Regions from separate parts of the Homo sapiens genome. Here region 1 is linked to region 2. A link means that fine-mapping ties the variant in region 2 to the expression of a gene that starts in the linked region. Tissue or cell type: whole blood. Region 2 holds a variant in brackets; the other region holds the start of a gene. All regions are shown on one strand. Distances are between the middles of the regions.

Region 1 (8,103 bases), 79 kb after region 2:
GCCTGGCTAACATGGGGAAACCCTGTCTCTACTAAAAATACAAAAATTAGCCATGCGTGGTGGTGGATGCCTGTGATCCCAGCTACTAGGGAGGCTGAGGCAGGAGAATTGTTTAACCCTGGAGGGAGAGGTTGCAGTGAGCAGAGATCGCACCATTGTACTCCAGCCTGGGAGACAAGAGCAAAACAACATCTCAAAAATATATATATATTTTATTTTAGAGACACGATCTTGCTATGTCACCCAGGTCAGAGAGCAGTGGTATGCAATCATGGCTCCTTGCAGCCTCAAACTCCTAAGCTCAAGCAGTCCTCCCACCTCAGCCTCCCAAGTAGCTGTGACTACAGCTGCATGCCACTGTGCCTGGCTAATTTTGTTATTTTTGTGTGTGTGCAGATGGGGGTCTCGCTATGTTGCCCAGGCTGGTCTCAATCTCCTAGCCTCAAGCCATCCTCCTGTCTCAGCCTCCCAAAATGCTGGGATTACAGGCATGAGCCACCAGGCCCAGCCAGTGTAATTTTTTTGCATAATTTTGGCACCTGTGTAGTGATTCAGCTGCAGATTTGGGGTACAATATTTTGCCAAGGCTTTCTATTTCTCTGTCCATAAGTCTCTTTTTTACCACTGTTTTTTGAGGGAACATATGGTAGAAAATAGGGTTATCATTTTAAAATTAAAACAATGGGCCGGGCATGGTGGCTCATGCCTGTAATCCCAGCACTTTGGGAGGCCAAGGCGGGCGGATCACGAGGTCAGGAGATTTAGACCATCCTGGCTAACACGGTGAAACCCCGTCTCTACTAAAAATACAAAAAAATTAGCCGGGCATGGTGGCAGGCGCCTGTAGTCCCAGCTACTTGGGAGGCTGAGGCAGGAGAATGGCATGAACCCAGGAGGCGGAGCTTGCAGTGAGCCGAGATCGTGCCACTGCACTTCCAGCCTAGGCGACAGAGCAAGACTCCGTCTCAAAAACAAAAACAAAAATAAAATTAAAACAATGCACTGACCTTCATTAGTGCAATGTTATCACTTAGAAGAAATAGGTGGCCAGGTGTGGTGGCTCACGCCTGTAATCCCAGATTTTGAGAGGCCAAGGTGGGCAGATCACCTGAGGTCAGGAGTTCGAGACGACTTTGGCCAGCATGGCAAAACCCTATCTCCATAAAAAATACAAAAATTAGCCAGGCATGCTGGCAGGCACCTGTAATTCCAGCTACTTGGGAGGCTGAGGCAGGAGAATCACTTGAACTGGGAGGCAGAGGTTGCAGTGAGCTGAGATTGCACCATTGCACTCCAGCCTGGGCAAGGGAGTGAGACTCCATCTCAAAAAAAAAAAAAAAAAAAGAAAAGAAATAGAAATAAGGTCTCTGGCAACTGGGCAAACTTTATGCTTTAAGACTTCAGATATGCTCCAGCTACTCTTGTTATTAACCTCTTAATAATGAGTATCAGAGACTTTATGGTTCTAAATGAAGATCAGTAATTCTTTTTTTTTTTTGAGACGGAGACTCACTCTGTCGCCCAGGCTGGCGTGCAGTGGTGCAATCTCGGCCCACTGCAACTTCTGCCTCCCGGGTTCAAGCGATTCTCCTGCCTCAGCCTCCCAAGTAGCTAGGATTACAGGCGCCTGCCACCACGCCCGGCTAATTTTTTTGTGTGATTTTAGTACAGACGGGGTTTCACCATTTTGGCCAGGCTGATCTCAAACTCCTGACCTCAGGTGATCCACCCACCTCAGCCTCCCAAAGTGCTGGGATTACAGGTGTGAGAGCCACCACGCCTGGCCAAGTCACAAATATTTTCAAGGTTTCAAAAAAATCCTCAGGTTGAAATAATAGTATCTTCATCATGCTATATCAGTAAAACAAATGAGAAAGATAATTGTTTAGTGCTATTAGATGCCAAACGCTATAAAGATAGGGCAACATTAAAAAAAAATCAAATAGCTCAGATTGTAGATAACATCTTCTAATAACCATTGTGGAAGATTCCACAAACAGGCCAGTCACATTTAATGAAAGTTATGTTTTAGGCCTAAACTTTGTTATGAGAGAACTTTGGAGTTCCACCATGATTTCTAATATATGACTAAAAATTCCCCCAAATCAGAGCCAAATGAACTCTACAGTTTTCAATGGATAGTTTTATGAAAAATCTGGGGAGGGGAGAGTGTTAAGGGGGTGCTTTTCGTCTTACAGTTGGCAGGGCCTTCATCTGGAATCCCTAACACTGGGAATGCTGACCCATACTCAGAGCTCAAAGTATAGAAAGAATGAATGAAATCAGGAAGGCATGGGAAAGTTGCCTTTCAATTTTAGTTTCTGATTTTGGTTACCGAAATAAGAATACATTACATTTGTTCACAAAGGAGAAATCAGGCTTTGTCAACTTCCACTTTTTTTTTTTTTTTTTTTGAGACATTGTTTCACTCCTGTCGCCCAAGGCTGGGCTGGAATGCAATGGCGAGATGTCGGCTCACTGCAACCTCCACCTCCCGGGCTAAAGTGATTCTCCTGCCTTAGCCTCCCAAGTAGCTGGGAGTACAGGCGCACGCCACCACTCCCGGCTACTTTTTGTATTTTTGTAGGGACGGGGGCCTCGCCATGTTGCCCAGGCTGGTCAGGAACTCCTGGGCTCAAGTGATCTGCCCGCCTCCTCCTCCCGCCTCCCAAAGTGCTGGGATTACAGGCGTGAGTCCCCGCGCCCGGCCCAACTTGAACTTTTAAATAAACGCCTTTCACAGCTTCTAGCCTACCTCCAGGTGCCATTTAGAGGCACAGACCGGAGGCAAAGCAGCTTGAGACACCTGGCTCCGGTGCATGGTGACCTCCCCCACACTTCTCTAGCCGTCCCAGGCTCAGGGCGGTGGGCGAGGGGGAGCGGGCCCCCGAGCCTGCCCCTCGGCCCGGTCCCTCACCTGTGAAGAGTTGCACAGGAACCTCGTCTCGTACTCCTCGTTCATGGTGATCACCCCGCGCACGTTCTCGTCCTGTACCAGCTGCCGAGGCAAAGAGGTGGCTCAGCAAAGACGGTGGAGACCCCAGCGGCCCGACAGGGACGGAGCGGCGGGGACGGGGCAGGGGCCCGGGCTCCCCGGCCCGGCTCACCTGGCGCGTCAAGCTCCGCAACGGCAGCGCGCCCAGCAGCACGGTGGGGTCGATGCGGTGGTACCAGTCCCGGTGCGCCCGACCCGGCACCTTCCCGCGGAACAGGGTGTAGAGCAGCGTCGGGTAGAAGAGCACCCGCGCCAGGCCGGCCTCCAGCAGCGCGGTGGCCGCCATCCCGGCCCGGCGCAGCGGCGACCCGTCGGCCCCCGCGCTCGCGGTCCGGACCCGCGAGAAGAGCAGGCGGGTGCCGGGGCGGGGCTGCCAGCTGCACTAGGCCTCTCGCGGGCTCGCACCGGGTGACGGCGGGGACTGGCCTGGACTCTGGGGGACTGGCGGGACTCTGGAGGAGGGCCCGGCGGCCTCGGAGGAGGGACCGAGGTTTCCTGGGCGGGAAACTGGGACCCCGGCGAAGGGAGAGCGCGTCGCAGGCCAGACACGTGTGAGCCCTGTAGCGTGGGAAACTGAGGCCCCCGCCTGTGGCCGGTGACCTCCCTCCTCCGAGGGAGGGGGGTTGTGACCCCAGGTGAGAGGGGCAGGAAGGACCCCTGCGTGTGGAACTGTGACTCCGGCCGAGGGAGGAGGGGACACTCCCCCCAACCCTCGACCAGAGGAAGGGGGCAGTGACCCAGGTGCGGGTGTGACCCCGCCAAAGGGAAGACAAGACAAGGAGAGGCTGTGTGGCGGGGTAGCCCTGAAGAGGACAGTGGAAGGGCTTAGAGCTTTCAAACAGAGGAGCTACCTGGGTGAGGGCCTGATCCCAGGGTGAACAGGGGTCCTGGGTTGAGGTCGCCTTCCTCCTCCCCTCCCCTGTCCTAGGGCAGGGCTCCCTCCTTCATCTGACCAAACAGCAGTGTTTACATAGCAGGAAAAAATAGGAAAATATACATTATATTAATATATCCTTAAGAAAAATATTATGAAGAGCTCAAATATAAAACCTGCAACCTACAAAAAGGTAAGAAGAATGGTTGTAATGCCAGCTATTTACTTTTTGTTTGTTTGTTTTGAGACGGAGTCTCACTCTGTTGCCCAGGCTAGAGGGCAGTCGCAAGATCTCAGCTCACTGCAACCTCCGCCTCCCGGGTTCAAACGATTCTCCTGCCTCAGCCTCCTGAGTAGCTGGGATTACAGGTGCATGCCACCACACCCAGCTAACTTTTGTTTTTAGTAGAGACGAGGTTTCACCTTGTCAGCCAGGCTGGTCTCGAACCTAAGGTGATCCGCCCACCTCAGCCTCCCAAAGTGCTGGCATTACAGGCATGAGCCACTGCACCCGGCCCAAGCATCTGGTGGAGTTTTTGTTTTTTGTTTTTTGTTTTTGAGACAGAGTTTCACTATTGTCACCCAAGCTGCAGTGCAATGGCGTGATCTCAGCACACTGCAACCTCTGCCTCCCAGGTTCAAGCAATTCTCCTGCCTCAGCCTCCCGAGTAGCTGGGATTACAGGTACATGTCACCACGCCCAGCTAAGTTTTGTATTTTTAGTGAGATGGCTTCAACATGTTGACCAGGCTGGTCTCAAACTCCTGACCTCAGGTGATCCATCCCCCTGGCCTCCCAAAGTGCCAGGATTACAGGCATGAGCCACCGCGCCCGGCTTTCTTTTTTTTTTTTTTTTTTTTTTTGTATTTTTAGTAGAGATGGGGTTTCACCATGTTGGCCAGGCTAGTCTTGAACTCCTGACCTATGGTGATCTGCCAGCCTCAGCCTCCCAAAGTGTTGGGATTACAGGCATGAGCCACACGCCCGGCCCAAGCATCTGGTGGAGATTTTGTTTGTTTGTTTGTTTTTAAGATAGAGTTTCACTCTTGTCACCCAAGCTGGAGTGCAATGGCGTGATCTCAGCTCACTGCAACCTCTGCCTCCCAGGTTCAAGCAATTCTCCTGCCTCAGCCTCCCGAGTAGCTGCCACCACGCCCAGCTAAGTTTTGTATTTTTAGTAGAGACAGGGTTTCACCATGTTGGCCAGACTGGTCTCAAAGTCCTGACCTGAGGAGATCCGTCCCCCTCGGCCTTCCAAAGTGCCGGGATTACAGGCATAAGCCACCATGCCCGGCCCATCTGGTGGTTTTAAAAGATTCATTTTCTTTTTTTTATATTTTGTTTTTGAGACGGAGTCTCCTTCTATTGACTAGGCTGAAGTGTAGTGGCGCCATCTCCACTCACTGCAACCTCCACCTCCCGGGTTCAAGCAGTTCTCCTGCCTCATCCTCCCCAGTAGCTAGAACTACAGGTGCCCGCCACCATGCCTGGCTAATTTTGTGTGTGTTTTTAATAGAGATGGGGTTTCACCATGTTGGCCGGGCTGCTCTTGAACTCCTGACCTCAGGTGTTCCACCCGCCTTGGTCTCCCAAAGTGCTGGGATTACAGGCATGAGCCACCGCACCCAGCCTAATTTTAGAATATTTTCATTGCCCTCAAAATAAGCCCCTTATGAATTAGCAGAGACTCACCATTTTCTCCCAATCATCCTCCAGCCTTAGGCAAACACTACTAACCTGCTTTCTGACTGTATAGATTTACATGTTTAGCATGTTGAGGGCATTTCTTCTTTTTACTTTTCTTTTTTTTTTTTCTAGGAAACAGGGTCTCACTGTCACCCAGGCTAGAGTGCAGTGGCAGCGTGATCATGACTCACTGTAGCCCCGACCTTTTGGGTGCAAGCAGTCCTCCTACCTCAGCCTCCCAAGGAGTTGAGACTACAGACGTGTGCCACGATACCTGGCTAATTTTTTATTATTTGTAGCGATGGGGTCTCACTATGTTGCCCAAACTGATCTCGGGACTGGGCACAGTGGCTCACACCTGTAATCCCAGCACTTTGGGAGGCGGAGGCAGAGGCAGGCAGATCACCTGAGGTCAGGAGTTTGAGACCAGCCTGGCCAACATGGTGAAACCCCGTCTCTACTAAAAAAATACAAAAATTAGCCAGGTATAATAGTGGGCGCCTGTAATCCCAGCTACTTGGGAGGCTGAGGCAGGAGAATCACTTGAACCCAGGAGGCGGAGTTTGTGATAAGCCAAGATCGCGCCACTGCACTTCAGCCTGGGTGACAGAGTGAGACTCCATATCAAAAAAAAAACAAAACAAAACAAAAAAAAACTGATCTGGAACTCCTGGGCTCAAACAATCCTCCTGATTTGGCCTCCCAAAGTACTGGGATTACAGGTCTGAACCACTGCATCCAGCCTAGGGTATTTCAAATAAATGGAGTCATACAATATGTGTTCTTTGTATCTGGCTGCTTTTTTTTTTTTTTTTTTTTGAGATAGAGTTTCACTCCTGTTGCCCAGGCTGGAGTGCAATGGTGTGATCTTAGCTCACTGCAACCTCTACCTCCTGGGCTCAAGCAATTCTCCCACCTCAGCCTCCTGAGTAGCTGGGACCACAGGTGCGTACCACCACACCTGGTGGCGAATTTTTGTATTTTTGGTAGAGACAGGCTTTCACCATATTGCCCAGGTTGGTCTCGAACTCCTGGACTCAAGCGATCTGCCTGCCTCAGCCTCTCTAAGTGCTGGCATTACAGGTGTGAGCCACCCCACCCAACTTTTTTTTTTTTTTTTTTGAGATGGAGTTTCGCTCTTGTTACCCAGGCTGGAGTGCAATGGCACAATCTCAGCTCACCACAACCTCCGCCTCTCAGGTTCAAGCAATTCTCCTGCCTCAGCCTCCCTAGTATCTGGGATTACAGGTATGCACCACCACTCCTGGCTAATTTTGTATTTTTAGTAGAGACGGGGTTTCTCCATGTTGGTTAGCCTGGTCTCGAACTCCCGACCTCAGGTGATCAGCCTGCCTCGGCCTCCCAAAGTGCTGGGATTACAGGTGTGAGCCACTGCGCCCAGCTTTTTTTTTTTCTTAATAGATATCACTTGTGTGTTGATACCTGTCTTATGCTTAGAATGTTTTCAAGGTTCGTCCATGTTGTAGCAAGTATCAGGACTGTCCTTCTTTTTATTGCCAAATAATATTTCAATGTATGGACAGACCACATGTTTTTCTCCATTTATCAGTTTATGAACATTTGAGTTGTTTCCACTTTTGGCTATTTTGAACAATGCTGCTGGGAACATTTGCATACAACTTACGGACATAGGTTTTCATTTCTCTTGTATATTTGACTAATCATGGAATTGTTAGGTCATAGGGTAGTACAGTGTTTAACCTTTTGAAGAACTGTCAGTTTTCCAAAGTGGACTGCACCTTTTTGCATCCCCACCAGGAGAGTATGGAGGGTTCCAATGTTGCCACATGGTTGCCAACACTTATTATCTGTCTTTCATTATAGCCATTTTAGTGGGTGTGGTGTCTCTTTGTGGAATAAACTTTTTTTTTTTTTTTTTTTTTTTGAGACGGAGTCTCGTTCTGTCGCCCAGGCTGGAGTGCAGTGGTGCGATCTCGGCTCACTGCAAGCTCCGCCTCCTGGGTTCATGCCATTCTCCTGCCTCAGCCTCCCAAGTAGCTGGGACTACAGGCGCCCGCTACCACACCCGGCTTATTTTTTGTATTTTTAGTAGAGATGGGTTTCTCCGTGTTAGCCAGGATGGTCTCAATCTCCTGACCTCGTGATCCACCTGTCTCGGCCTCCCAAAATGCTGGGATTACAGGCCTGAGCCACCTCACCCAGCGAAATACACTTTTTTTTTTTTTTTTTGAGACAGAGTCTCACTCTGTTGCCCAGGCTAGAGTGCAGTGGCATGATCTCCACTCAATACAAGCTCTGCCTCCCGGGCTCATGCCATTCTCCTGCCTCTGCCTCTCAAGTAGCTGGGACTACAGGCGCCCACCACCACGCCCGGCTAATTTTTTGTATTTTTAGTAGAGACGGGGTTTCACCATATTAGCCAGGATGGTCTCGATCTCCTGACCTCGTGATCTGTCCGCCTCGGACTCCCAAAGTGCTGGGCTTACAGGCGTGAGCCACTGCGCCCAGCCAGAATAAACTTTTAAATGTGGAATAATTTAGATGCACAGAAAGGTTTTAAAAATAG
Region 2 (8,103 bases):
GCCAGGGTAAAGGTTTTGGGAGAGATTATAGGAGGGTGAAAGCCAGGGAGACCTTGATGCTTTTTCAGTTCAGTATGTCAAAATACCATACATTTTGGGGTATTGGTTTTGGAGCCCTAACACAGACTTTGATAAGTATCCCCTGAGGGCCAAAATTAACCCTGTTGAGAACCACTAGTCTAAGCCAATCATTGGTTTAGGTGGTGGTGGGTGACTCCTGTCCAGTAATTCATGAGAATTCTGCTGGGGAGGTTTCTGAGAAAAGGTTTCTTCCTCCAAAAAGAGCCAATTTGAGAGCCAGGCATGGTGGCTCATGCCTGTAATCCCAGCACTTTGGGAAGTTGAGGCGGGCGGATCATCGAGGTCGGGAGATCGAGACCATCTTGGCTAATACAGTGAAACCCCGTCTCTACTACAAAAAAAAAAATTAGCCAGGCATGGTGGCACATTCCTATAGTCCCAGCTACTTAAGAGGAGGAGGCAGGAGAATCGCTTGAATCTGGGAACAGAGGTTGCAGTGAGCCGAGATCGTGCCATTCCACTCCAGCTTGGGTGACAACGTGAGACTCCGTCTCAAAAAAAAAAAAAAAAAAAAAAGAGCCATTTTGTGATGAGCTTTGGTGTGCCAAAAAAGAGAGAACTATTTTTAAAAAGACACCTTCTCGAAGGCTGGACGCGGTGACTCACACCTGTAATCCCAGCACTTTGGAAGGCCAAGGCAGGCAGATCACCTGAGGTTGGGAGTTCGAGACCAGCCTGACCAACATGGCAAAACCCCGTCTCTACTAAAAATAACAAAAATTAGCTGGGCGTGGTGTTGGGCGCCTGTAATCCCAGCGACTCGGGAGGCTGAGGCAACCTCCTTGAACCCGGGAGGCGGAGGTTGCAGTGAGCCAAGATCACACCATTGCACTGCAGCGTGGTCAACAAGAGTGAAACTCTGTCTCAAAAAAACAAAAACAGAAACAAAAACCCTTCTCTCTTCTTCCTCTGACTATCAGTGTTGCATATGAGGCTCAAAACTATTTTGATACCGGCCTAAGGAGGAAGAGCACAGGGATGGAAAGAATCTAGGTATTTGGTAAGACTCTTGTGTCACAGCCTCATCCAACTCAGAAGGCTCCTTGAACTCAGGTCTTCCTATAAGGCAAAATAAATATAATAAATATATGCCGGCTGGGTAAGCTGGTTCATGCCTGTAATCCCAGCACTTTGGGAGGCCGAGGTGGGAGGGTCACTTGAGCACAGAAGTTCAAGACCAGCCTGGACAGCCTTGGACCAGGTTAGGATTAAGACAGGGGCTTGAATTTTGCTAAGATACAGGCCCAGTTAAACGATAGCTAGTCATTATTCTGGCGATCACGAGATATAGGAGTAACTTTCCCAATTACTCCTATAGATAACATCACTATTGTACAACTTAAGATTGGCCTTTTACGACGTTTTTCAATTACTTGAGGTTTTTTGGTCTTTTTATTTTTCTCCTTTTTGTGGAAAATGGGGTCTTGCTGTGTTGCCCAGGCAGGTCTCAAACTATCCTCCCACCTCTGCCTGAAATGCTGGGATTACAGACGTAAACCATCACACCTGGCAGAGATAACATCACTAACATAGAATCTAAGATTGCCTTTTTGAGATGTTTTGGTGGCTACTGACTCCACTCAGACCCACCACTCATGACATCTGGTCCTGTGGCCTCCATCCAGAGGCTGTCAAGGACCGCTTTCTATACCCCTATGATTTCATCCCCAACCAATCAACATTCCCCATTTGAGCCCCCTGCCACCAAAGCATCCTTGAAAAACCCTCACCTCTGAGCCGTCGGGGAGAGTGATTTGAGCGATAACTTAAGTTCTTCCACATGGCCCACACTGTGTTAATTAAACTCTTTCTTTACTGTAATGCCACAGTCTCAGTGAACTGATTTTGTCTGTGCAGCAGGCAGGAAGAACCCACTGGACAATTACGTGATCTCTCTCCCAAGTCAGACCGCCTCCCAGTCCAGGAGACTTTTTTTTTTTTCTTCAAGACAGGCTCTTACTCTGTCCCCCAGGCTGGAGTGCAGTGGTACAATCTCGGTTCACTGTAACCTCTGCTTCCCAGGCTCGAGCAATCCTCCCACCTCAGCCTCCTAAGAAGCTGAGACTACAGGTGCAAGCCACCATGCTCAATTAATTTTTTTTTCTTTTTTGCAGAGACGGGGTTTCACTATGTTGCCCAGGCTGGTCTCAAACTCCCGAGCTCAAAGCAATCCACCCAAGTGCTGGGATTACAGGCATGTGCCCTGCTCCCAAGAGGCTTTTAACTGGTAAATCCATTCAGCCTTCCCTGGGCTTCATTTTTTTCTGAGATGGAGTTTCACTCTTGTTGCCCAGGCTGGAGTGCAATGGCATGATCTCGGCTCACTGCAACCTCCGCCTCCCGGGTTCAAGCGATTCTCCTGCCTCAGCCTCCCGAGTACCTGGGATTATAGGCATGTGTCACCACGCCCGGCTAATTTTGTTTTTTAGTAGAGATGGGTTATCTCCATGTTGGTCAGGCTGGTCTTGAACTCCTGACCTCAGGTGATCCGCCCACCTCAGCCTCCCAAAGTGCTGGGATTACAGGCGTGAGCCACCGCGCCCGGCTTCTGGGCTTCATTATTGACCTCTTGGAAGCTTTTGACATATTGACTATCCTTTCTTTTTCCAAACTTTTCTGTTGACTTCAGTGACATGCTGTTCTAGTTCTGTTTCCTTCCCAGTTAATTCTGCCCCTTTTGACTTCCGTTATTCCTCTCACCACTGCAATATGGGTCAGCAAATATAACCCATCTTAGGGTCATCATACTGAACTGTATCAGGGAATGCCATTCAGATCATAGTCTTTGTGACTGGCCCCACTCTGAGTTATGCAGTGCACAGCCTAGGCAGCTGTACATAGCACCTCTTCCCTTATCTATACTGCTGACTTCGGTTACCTATTCTCTGCAGATTCTTCCCAAAACCTCATCAGCAGCTTCTGCCTCACACCATTGGAAAATATTGTGGAGCAGACTGAATCCCCCAACCACCCACCCCTGGCAAGAGGCTCTGTGCCTCCCCATGCTCACTAGCATCAGTGGGACAAGGCAATATTATTTGGCACCATCAATGCACAAATCCAAGAATAAATAATCCAACCAGGTGTGGTGACTCACACCTGTAATCCCAGCACTTTGGGAGGCAGGTGGATCACTTGAGTTCAAGAGTTTGAGACCAGCCTGGGGCAACATGGCGAGACCCCATCTCTACTAAAAATACAAAAAAAATAGCTGGGCATGGTGGTGCACACCTGTGGTCCCAGCTAATTGGGAGACTAAGGTAGGAGGATCGCTTGAGCCCAGGAGGTGGAGGTTGCAGTGAGCCGAGATTGCACCACTGCACTCCAGCCTGGGTGACAAAGAGAGACCCTGTCTCAAAAAAAAAAAGAAAAGAATCCCCTGCTAAATAGTCTCTCTGGCTCAGCTTTATGTTTCTAGATTCAGTTAGAAGCAACTTGTTTCTTACAACTTTATTTTTTATTTATTTATTCTTTTGAGACTGAGTCTCGCCCTGTCACCCAGGCTGGAGTGCAATGGCGCAATCTTGGCTCACTGCAACCTCCAACTCCCGAGTTCAAGCGATTCTCCTGCCTCAGCCTCCCGAGTAGCTGGGATTACAGGCACCCGCCATCACACCCAACTAATTTTTGTACTTTTAGTACAGATGGGGTTTCACCATGTCGGTCAGGCTGGTCTTGAACTCCCGACCTCAGGTGATCCACCCACCTCAGCCTTCTAAAGTGTTGGGATTACAGGTGTGAGCCACCGTGCCCAGCCAATATCTGTATTTCAATATAAAGTTTTTTAAAAAAAACCCTTTCCTATGCATAATTTCACTTAATGCTCATAATAACCCTGAGAGATACACAGTAGTGTTAGATTTAGATACAAAAACTGGAAATTAAAGTAGCTAAAATGACAAATGGATGCAGTGGAAAAGCCAGGATCCAAATCCAAGTCTTTCCCCTACAGTACTTCACTCTGCTCCAAGCTCAGATTCACCAAATGTTGTTTGATAGAACACGTGAGCTGGGGCTGAAGGAGCAGGGACAATGCCTTTTTCACTTTTGCCTCTGATAGCCTGTAGACTGGTAGGCACTGAAGTATTTGTTCACTTGTGCAATAAATATTTATTGAGCACCTCGTATGTGCTGGGCACTGAAAACACAACCGTGAACAGAGGCTGTCACGGTTCCTGAACTCATGGAGCTTTCATTCCAGTGGAGGAGACATAATTTCAGTGATAATGCTACGACGGGGCACAATGTGGGAGAAAATAAGAGGGAGGTGGCCAGGCGCGATGGCTCCTCACTCCTGTAATCCCAGCACTTTGGGAGGCCAAGGCGGGTGAATCACGAGGTCAGGAGTTTGAGACCAGCCCGGCCAACATCGTGAAACCCCGTCTCTACTAAATAGACAAAAATTAGCCGGGCGTGGTGGCGTGTGCGTGTAATCCCAGCTACTAGGGAGGCTGAGGCAGGAGCATTGCTTGAACCTGGGAGGCGAAGGTTGCAGTGAGCTGAGATCGGGCCACTGCACTCCAGCCTGGGTGACAGAGCGAGACTCCGTCTCAAAAAAAAAAAAAAAAAGAAAGAAAAAGAAAAGGGGGAGGTAATTTTAGAATGGTCAGAGAAGGTTTTT[T/C]TGAAAAGATAACATTAATCAAACGAATAAATGAATGAAAAGCCACTCGCTAGCGGATTCATTATTTGCTATACTTATTTAGAGTTTGTCAGTCACGAGACTGTTACGGCTCTGATGCTGAGTATCTTTTGAATCCTATGTTGATGATGCCCAAAAGGCAAGTGCAGAGATGAAGCATAATGAAGAATCCTTTTCAATTTCTTTTCAGTCCTCTGACCTTGCCTCTGCCGTCACGGTCACACTCCCCCACTGACACTCCCATTCTTCTGTTTCCGGACACTTGCGGCCTGGAAGCGCATGTGCAAGAGAAACCGTCATTCCTGGTGAAGGGCGAGCCCCCGGCAGAACGCATGCGCCTCTGTCCCTTAAGCCCCGCCCCGACCTCAGCGCCCCCTCGCGAGCGCCTGCCGTTTCTCGGGGCGGGACGGGGGGGCGGGGACTGGGCGGAGAGGCGCGTGCTGCTGCGTGCGTGCGCGCGCGCCGCGGGCGGGCCAGTGAAACCGGCGGCCCTGGCACGTGACCTAGGACCGGCTCACCGGGTCGCTTGGTGGCTCCGTCTGTCTGTCCGTCCGCCCGCGGGTGCCATCATGGCGGACGCGGCCAGTCAGGTGCTCCTGGGCTCCGGTCTCACCATCCTGTCCCAGCCGCTCATGTACGTGAAAGTGCTCATCCAGGTATGAGGCGTCGCCGCTCCCTACCCCGCCCGGCGCCCCGTTCGGTCGCTGCTGCTCAGGGCGCCTGAGGATCGGCTCAGCCTTGCGGGCCTTTCATTCTCCCGAGATGCTGCTGCTCCTCCGCTGCCCTTTACCTCCCCGCAGGGACAGCTTCCTCAGTCCCGCGGCCCCGCTTGGGGGCCTCGCCGAGCCCTCGCCTCGCCGCCCAGCGTTGAGGCCCTCTCCTCCCTTAGCCAACCGCCACCCGGCCCTGCCCTGCCCGGCGGATCCTCTGAACTTTGGTTCTTCGTCACTGAGGTGGATCCTGGCCGGTCGCCACCAAAGGCTTCCGAACCCTCCCTCTCGCCCCTCCGAAATTCACATTCACCACTACTCCCCCCAAAATCTCAGACGCAAAACACGAAATACTCAGTTGAAGACAAATGTGAAGTTAGGTGGGAACCAACATTTTATTTTTTATTCCTTTTTTTTTTCTTTTTATGCTACTGTTACTACTGCTTTTCTGTTCCGAGGTTTTCGCACCAGATACTGAGAGAAACACAAGGAGCTCATTCAGAAGTGTTAATGAAGGGGTTGCTCTGTCAGATTTCGGAAGGATGCATTGAGCGCTTTCCAGCAGCGGCCCATGTGGCTCCTGACAATGAAAATCACATTTGTCAGAGCTGGAAATTAGTGAAGCTGAGTTTTAGCGAGTTTAAACATGGGAGTTAGTTTCTAATCTACTGTCAAATAATTATTACATGGTATTTTATATTCACATGCAGGTAGGCCAAGTAAGTGATAGACTTAGTGTTTCCAGTTCCTTTGCTATATCCCTGTAATGGGCAGGTCATTCTTTTTTTTATGCTTTTACTGAGAGTTGACATAATTACCTCATGCACTGTGCCTAGGAATGGAACAGTTTTTAGAACCCCTGTCTCGCCGTCTACTTTTCTGTAAAAAATAGGCAAGACACTAGAGAGGGCCCCATTTCTTATTCTTGAGTTGTTGGGAATCCAAATTATTTCTTGCTGAGTAGACCTGTGTGAATTCAGATTCCATATGTTAAAGGCTATTGCAAATAAATTCTTTGTACTTAGAACAAAGACTGATTAGAATGTACTGTAACATCCAAAACAGAATTGGCACATTTGGGGCTAGATAGCATCGGAGGTGACAGCATGTTGCAGTATATAGTAAGAACCCTTGGGGCCGGGCGCGTTCGCTCACGCCTTCCCAGCACTTTGGGAGGCCGAGGTGAGCGGATCACGAGGTCGATGTTTGAGACCAGTCTGACCAACATGGTGAAACCCCGTCTCTACTAAAAATACAAAATATAGCCAGGTGTGGTGGTGCGTGCACGTAATCCCAGCTAGTCGGGAGGCTGAGGCAGGAGAATCGCTTGAACCCGGGAGGTGAAGGTTGCAGTGAGCCGAGATCGCGCCATTGTACTCCAGCCTGGGCAACAGAGCAAAACTCAGCCTCAAAAAAACAAAACAAAACAAAAAAGAACCCACTACTCAATACTTCTCTGGGAGACGGGGTTTTCTAATGATGTTCAGAGCTCTTGCCCCAAAAACTTTGAATATTCTTAATTCTGATTTCACAACATCTATGTGTTGCCAAGTAGCCCAGGAGTTTTGGTGAAATTCCCAAATGCTCAGTTGTAAAAATAGTTACTTGGGCCGGGCACGGTGGCTCACGCCTGTAAATCCCAACACTTTGGGAGCCTGAAACAGGCGGTTCACCTGAGGTCAGGAGTTAAAGACTAGCCTGGCCAACATGGCAAAACCCCCTCTCTACTAAAAATACAAAAATTAGCTGGGTGTGGTGGTGGGTGCCTGTAATCCCAGCTACTCAGGAGGCTGAGGTACGAGAATGGCTTAAACCTGGGAGATGGAGGTTGCAGTGACCTAGATCGTGCCACTGCACTCCAGCCTGGGCGACAAGAGCGAAACTCTGTCTCCAAAAAATAAATAAGTAACTAAATAAAAATAAAAATGGTTACTTGGTAGCACTTTCAGGGAGCTCAGACAGGAGTTATTTGTTTATTTATTTGTTGTTGTTTTTGAGATGGAGTTTTGCTCTTGTCACCCAGACTGGCATGCAATGGCACAATCTCGGCTCACTGCAACCTCCGCCTCCCAGGTTCAAGCGACTGTCCTGCCTTAGCCTCTTGAGTAGCTGGGATTACAGGTGTCCGCCACCACACCTGGCTAATTTTTGTGTTTTTAGTAGAGACAGGGTTTCACCATGTTGGCCAGGCTGGTCTTGAACTCCTGACCTCAGGTGATCCGCCCACCTTGGCCTCCCAAAGTGCTGGGATTACATGCATGAGCCACCACGCCAGCCCAGGAGTTACTTAATAGGACAGATTAAGAGTCACAACAATAATCAAAACTATGTCCTACAGCATTCATTCTGTCAAGTATCTGTAGTGTTAAAAATCCTGGGTATATTGTACAAAGACCATGGTAATCATTAACTATATAAAATGGACTTCATTAGCTGTTAATGACAGCCTGTGTTTTTTTGTTTGTTCGTTTGTTTGTTTGTTTTTGAGATGGAGTCTCGCTGTTGTCGGCCTCGGCTGGAGTGCAGTGACACAATCTCGGCTCACTGCAACCTCTGCCTCCCGGGTTCAAGTGATTCTCCTGCCTCAGCCTCCCAAGTAGCTGAGATTACAGGCGCCCGCCCCTACGCCCGGCTAATTTTTTAGTTCTAGTAGAGACAGGGTTTCACCATGTT

What was found. PIP is the estimated chance that this variant, and not a neighbour inherited with it, causes the effect.
Region 1: it holds the start of PTPMT1, and the variant in region 2 is fine-mapped to the expression of PTPMT1 in whole blood (TOPMed, PIP above 0.99).

What each region holds. Positions count from the first base shown.
Region 1 is chr11:47,560,801-47,568,903 of GRCh38, reverse strand. It overlaps PTPMT1 (protein tyrosine phosphatase mitochondrial 1), which reads right to left and starts at 3,305. Exons shown (of 4, transcript NM_175732.3): 1 at 3,108-3,305; 2 at 2,918-2,998. The coding sequence starts at 3,281. It also overlaps a transcript of CELF1 not described here. RefSeq lists silencers at 2,794-2,873, 3,004-3,483 and enhancers at 2,793-3,293, 3,294-3,794.
Region 2 is chr11:47,639,652-47,647,754 of GRCh38, reverse strand. It overlaps MTCH2 (mitochondrial carrier 2), which reads left to right and starts at 5,196. Exons shown (of 13, transcript NM_014342.4): 1 at 5,196-5,376. The coding sequence starts at 5,290. RefSeq lists a silencer at 5,006-5,275. The variant T/C (reference allele first, on the strand shown) is at 4,703.